Linked DNA regions of Homo sapiens. The protein of the gene in region 1 interacts with the protein of each later gene in a pairwise test. Each region holds a gene or a part of one and is shown in the gene's direction. Other genes may lie near its edges.

Region 1 (2,493 bases):
CCGTCTCTACTAAAAATACAAAAAAAATTAGCTGGGCGTGGTGGCGCGCGCTTGTAATCCCAGCTACTCGCTACTTGGGAGGCTGAGGCAGGAGAATCGCTTGAACCCAGGAGGGGGAGGTTGCAGTGAGCCGAGATTGTGCGCTTTTGCATTCCAGCCTGGGCGACAAGAGTGAGACTGTTTCAAAAAAAAAAAAAAAAAAAAAAAAACCTCAAAGACGGGAAAAGATATACAGCTACTGCTTTCTATTCTGTTTAGGAGAAGCTATATTCTAATTGCTTGATGAAAGATAGTGACAGTCTGATATTGAGCAATTGCCTTTAGTTAATAATGGGTTTATAAAACCAAAGATGCTCACTAAGTTCGGAAAAATTTTAAAGGGATCACTTAAATTGTTGTTAGTGTGTGCCTGTTGAAAATTCAGCTGACCTGTAATTTTCTGGCCTAGTGTCTGCACTGCTTGGGGAGGAAGATGAAGAGGCACTGCATTATTTGACCAGAGTTGAAGTGACAGAATTTGAAGATATTAAATCAGGTTACAGAATAGATTTTGTAAGTATCTCTAACTTAATCTTGTTTGCCACTGTGGAAATTAATGTGAGCTTTGGTTGGAAGACCTGTTCATATTTCTAATCTTTCAATTATTTATTACAGTATTTTGATGAAAATCCTTACTTTGAAAATAAAGTTCTCTCCAAAGAATTTCATCTGAATGAGAGTGGTGATCCATCTTCGAAGTCCACCGAAATCAAATGGAAATCTGGAAAGGTATGTTTTGAGGAATTATTTGACAAAAATAGCATTTTGCCTATTTCAGTTTAGTTTTAACCACTTACAAGTGCTTGATACTTTGGTCATGTGGCTAAATACAAAACCTTAAAATATAAAACGTTCCAGTGTGCTGAAGCCAAGTATTACAGTAGTTTAGGGTTCTCATTAGATACTACAGATGTAGGCAGGAAGATCTCTTGAGCCTAGGAGTTTACCCTGGGCAACATAGACCCTTACCTTCCAAAAAACAAAAAAAAAGAGAAAAATCTAGCCCAAGTTTAAGAATTGAGAACTGGACTAAATTTTTTGTTGCTGTTGTTTTCTGCAGTGGTGACTGAGCTCTTCAAATGGCTTGCCATTTCTCAAAATCATTTACATCCGTATTTAGGTAGTAAGACATAGTTTAGATATTTATACTGTGTTGTGCTAGTGGCTGTTAACAGTGGAACTAATTTTATGGAAAACCAAATGTAGTTGATACTACCTCTACCTGCTGCACAGTTTTATAATTGCTCTTAGGTAATAATGGTAGCGTAGATAGTATACTGATATTTGTTTTGCTTAGCTTTTGGGGAAAATCTTATTTTTTAAATTATAGGGAGTTTGGGTGTTATGGAGAGATTGTATCAAAAGCTCTTCCGGTATTCATTTAGGATTTGACGAAACGTTCGAGTCAAACGCAGAATAAAGCCAGCAGGAAGAGGCAGCATGAGGAACCAGAGAGCTTCTTTACCTGGTTTACTGACCATTCTGATGCAGGTGCTGATGAGTTAGGAGAGGTCATCAAAGATGATATTTGGCCAAACCCATTACAGTACTACTTGGTGAGTTCTAATACTCATTTATTCAAGGTTGGACTTGTCTCGGTTGTTTAAAAATGAGTCCTTATATTGTGCTTTTTTTTTTTTAAGGTTCCCGATATGGATGATGAAGAAGGAGAAGGAGAAGAAGATGATGATGATGATGAAGAGGAGGAAGGATTAGAAGATATTGACGAAGAAGGGGATGAGGATGAAGGTGAAGAAGATGAAGATGATGATGAAGGGGAGGAAGGAGAGGTAAAAGAAAATTTGGCTAAACCCACAAAGATAACTTTTAAAGAATTCATGTTATTTTGGGGTGTATATATATATATATAGTGTGGTAGAACTGACCAGAACTGATTGTGGAAAAAAAGTAAGCCATTTTGTTGTTCAAGAATTAAGGAAATGTTTGATAAGCACATGGTACTAATGTTTAACTAGGTTTTTTTTGGTTTTTTTTTGGGTTTTTTTGGTTAGACTTATCACCACCCAAGCTTGTTTTTCCCTAGCCAGTACTTAGGCAATATAGGCAGTGTAGCTGGTCAAATTCTGACATCTCTGAAATAACAAAGTTTCATGTATTTTCGACAAACTGCACAATTTCTGAATAGTCAAATTAGGATAGGTTGGTTTTATTTCGGATTATTTGATCCGAAATATACCTGATTTGGTTAGAACTGAAGTTACTAATTAATCTGAAGCAACATCATCACGGGTGTTTCCTTCGATGCAGCTGACTTACAGGTTTAGAAACTGGAGTGCCCCCAGGGGCACTCGTGGGGTCCATTGTGGTCCATATGAAAGCAAGTCTCAGCATTAATCCTGAAGATTAACTGCCCACTTTTTCTTTCAGGAGGATGAAGGAGAAGATGACTAAATAGAACACTGATGGATTCCAACCTTCCTTTTTTTAAATTTT
Region 2 (3,507 bases), on another chromosome or scaffold:
CCGGGCTCCCAGAGTGACTGCAAGGTCTCCTGAATGGAAGTGAGGTTACGTGAGATGTGGACCAGCCACTGGTGGCATGAGGGGCTTCCTTCTTTGAGAGCCAGCACAGGTGGAGGTCGGAAACAGGAGCTCTGGGGTCAGGCTGCCTGGGTTCACATCCCAGCTCTTCTCTTTACCGGCTCTGTCTTCTGGGGCAAATGGCAGTGTGCCTCAGTTTCTTCAGCAGTAAAATGACAATGCCAGTCATCCCAGCTTCGCAGGATTGTTGTGAGGATTGGATGAGTTGATAAGAGATGAATGCCTGTGCACAGCCTGGCCCAGGGAGGGCATTCATCATGATACTGTCCTTGCGATTGTCCTCCCTTCAGAATGGGGCACTGCATGTGACCAAGGACCTGCTGTGGGAGCCGGCAACCCCTGGGCCTCTCCCCATGCTGCCTCCCCTCATCGGTAAGGGTCTCATTCCCCCGGGCTCACTCCACACTGCTCCACCTATTCTTCCCACTGCTCCCGCTCCTGAGACCTTCCTCTCCCTGCTAAGCCTGTGCCTGCTCAGGACCCTTGGATACCTCCAGTCGCCCAGGGCATCTGGCCGCACTCCTGTGCCCTCCCCAGCCCTTTCCGTAACCTCCTTCTCAGATCCCTGGGACCCTGGCCTGACTGCCCGGGACCTGCTTTTCCGCGGAGGGTGCCGGTATCGGAAGCGGCCCCGAGTCGTGCTGGATGTGACTGAGCAGGTGAGTGGGCCCACGGGGGACAGTGCTGCGTAGCCTGGAGACTGTGCTTAGTGACCTGGCCTCCTCTTCTCCCCAGATCAGCCGGTTCCTCTTGGATCATGGAGACGTAGCCTTTGCGCCCCTGGGGAAGCTGATGCTGGAGAATTTCAAGCTGGAGGGAGCGGGGGTGAGTGGCCCGTGACTCCAGGGGTGGGGACTCCCTGCTGTCCTTCAGGGGTGAACTCGAGGGTGTGTGAGCCTGACAAGGCCTTTCCATGCAGAGCCGCACTAAGAAGAAGACAGTGGTCAGTGTGAAGAAGCTGCTCCAGGACCTCGGTGGACACCAGCCCTGGGGGCAAGTGGCTGATGAGAAAGGAGGAGATGGATAGGCATAGCTGGTGGTGGGGATGTAGGAGGTGCTAGGACGCACGTACAGCTTTCCGTCATACCCACTTCCCCCCTGCTCCATGCAGTCTGAGCTGTACTTTCTTATACCAGACTTCCAACTCCAAATCATCTCAGGGGAAAGCAGATTTACATTTGTGGAGTTCAGGCACAGCTGCATCCAGGTGTTCAAATAATGTTCATAGAGCTGTGTCTCTCTTTCCTGTCTCGTCCACTTGCCTCTCCCTGCACAGTTCCCTAGACAGGCTGTCTCTAGGTAGCAGCAAGATGGCTTATGATCTAAGGAAAGAGCCAGTGTCCTTCCTGCGGCACCAGAAGTCCCAGAAAGGACTTTGGTTGGCTTGGCTTGGGTCTCACACCCATCTGTGAACCAGTCACTGTGGCAAGGGCAATGGAATATTGTTGGTGGCCAGGTCTGGGTCACATGATTGCTTCCGGGGCATGGGAACAGGATGGGGTGGTCTCCCAAAGGAAGAAATTCTAGGTAAATAAGAAATGTGTCCACTGCACTTGGCCTCCTTGGGATGGGACCTGTCCTCCCCTGAGTGCCACCGAGTGATCCTCCTGCTGTTCTCTGGTCCCCAGGTGTCCCTGGGCTTACCTCAGCAACCGACAGCGCCGCTTCTCTATCCTCGGGGGCCCCATCCTGGGCACGTCGGTGGCGAGCCACTTGGCAGAGCTGCTGCACGAGGAGCTGGTGCTGCGGTGGGAGCAGCTGCTTCTGGATGAGGCCTGCACTGGGGGCGCGCTGGCCTGGGTTCCTGGAAGGACACCCCAGTTCGGGCAGCTGGTCTACCCTGCTGGAGGCGCCCAGGACAGGCTGCGTATCCTTTCTTGCGAGACAGGAGATTCCAGCGGGCTCGCCTCTGGTAGAGGAGGTGCTCTTGGCATGGTCCAGAGAAGGGCAGGAATTTGGGGGGCTTGCAGTGATCATAGCTCGTGCACTGATCCTTAGTGAGAGGCCCAGATTTCCAAGAGGTCGTTCTGACCCCAGGTGACAATCCCCAATTCCTTGGGAAACCTGGACGCATCCAGCTCCAGGGACCTGTCCGGCAAGTGGTGACATGCACCGTCCAGGGAGAAAGTAAGGCCCTTATATACACTTTCCTCCCTCACTGGCTGACCTGCTACCTGACCCCTGGCCCTTTCCATCCCTCCTCAGCTCTGCTGGCCGTCCGCTCTGACTACCACTGTGCCGTGTGGAAGTTTGGTAAACAGTGGCAGCCAACCCTTCTGCAGGCAATGCAGGTGGAGAAAGGGGCCACGGGGATCAGCCTCAGGTGAGGGGGGTCAGGTTGGTCGGTGAGGAGGGGCTGGAGGCAGGGCTGAGCAGCCCGATGTGAATGCATTCCTGCCCTGTAGCCCTCACCTGCCCGGGGAGCTGGCCATCTGCAGCCGCTCGGGAGCCGTCTGCCTGTGGAGCCCTGAGGATGGGTATCGCCGCTTCCTGTGAAACCCCCCACCCTAACGAACTGAACTCCGCCCTGTTGAGCATGTCGCGACCCTTGAGCCCCTTCCCCATCAGCCTGTCCCCCTGCCCACGGCTTGCCTGTCTCCCCAAGGCTGCGGCAAATCTACAGGGACCCTGAGACCCTCGTGTTCCGGGACTCCTCTTCGTGGCGTTGGGCAGACTTCACTGCGCACCCTCGGGTGCTGACCGTGGGTGACCGCACCGGAGTGAAGATGCTGGACACTCAGGTACGGGCTGGCGGCAGAGGACCCACCCCGACTGCGGGAGCGGCCGCAGAGCGGTGAGTCCCAGGCTGGCTGCGGCCTGGGCGAGGACAGCGTCACCGGCCTGGGACTGTGGGGAGGGCTGACCCTGTGTTTATCTTCCAGGGCCCGCCGGGCTGTGGTCTGTTGCTTTTTCGTTTGGGGGCAGAGGCTTCGTGCCAGAAAGGGGAACGTGTCCTGCTTACCCAGTACCTGGGGCACTCCAGCCCCAAATGCCTCCCCCCTACTCTTCATCTCGTCTGTACCCAGGTGAGTGGCACACAACACCGCCCCGCCCCACCTCTGCTCTGTCTCAGATGGTCACTAGAGGCTGCTGCTTACCAGCGGCTCTGCTGGGCCCAGACAACCACCCAGCAAACCAAACTCAACCCTGGATGAATCTGTGGCCCAAACACGCAGTGGATCCCACAGTCGGTGCTAACAGGCAGGTGGGGAAGCTCTCCCAGGGCCTCCCCTTAGTAGAGCTTCGAGGTGCAGCCAGGGGTGGAGCAGGGGAGGAGGGGCCTCGGGGTGGGGCTTCCGTGCAGAGCTGGAGAGTTTCTGCTGTGCAGGAGGCGGGGGCTCTGAGGAAGCAGGTCTGTCCTCCACCCGCCCTCCCGGGGACATTCGTAGGCGTGCCTCGAGCACAGGCTCCCGGGTCAGGAGAGTGGGG

Evidence for each region.
Region 2: the proteins of SET (region 1) and TAF1C interact in binary tests that used the Homo sapiens proteins (3 or more experiments, as listed by UniProt).

Annotation. Positions count from the first base shown.
Region 1 is NC_000009.12:128,692,214-128,694,706, forward strand, and holds part of SET (protein SET), read left to right. Parts: intron 1-448; coding exon 449-552; intron 553-654; coding exon 655-768; intron 769-1,424; coding exon 1,425-1,595; intron 1,596-1,682; coding exon 1,683-1,829; intron 1,830-2,427; coding exon 2,428-2,451; 3' UTR 2,452-2,493. UniProt on the Homo sapiens protein: Multitasking protein, involved in apoptosis, transcription, nucleosome assembly and histone chaperoning. Isoform 2 anti-apoptotic activity is mediated by inhibition of the GZMA-activated DNase, NME1.
Region 2 is NC_000016.10:84,180,640-84,184,146, reverse strand, and holds part of TAF1C (TATA box-binding protein-associated factor RNA polymerase I subunit C), read left to right. Parts: intron 1-368; coding exon 369-450; intron 451-639; coding exon 640-737; intron 738-813; coding exon 814-903; intron 904-997; coding exon 998-1,071; intron 1,072-1,706; coding exon 1,707-1,945; intron 1,946-2,088; coding exon 2,089-2,205; coding exon of another isoform or gene 2,206-2,283; coding exon 2,284-2,401; intron 2,402-2,483; coding exon 2,484-2,555; exon of another isoform or gene 2,556-2,683; coding exon 2,684-2,819; intron 2,820-2,960; coding exon 2,961-3,104; intron 3,105-3,151; exon of another isoform or gene 3,152-3,279; intron 3,280-3,507. UniProt on the Homo sapiens protein: Component of the transcription factor SL1/TIF-IB complex, which is involved in the assembly of the PIC (pre-initiation complex) during RNA polymerase I-dependent transcription.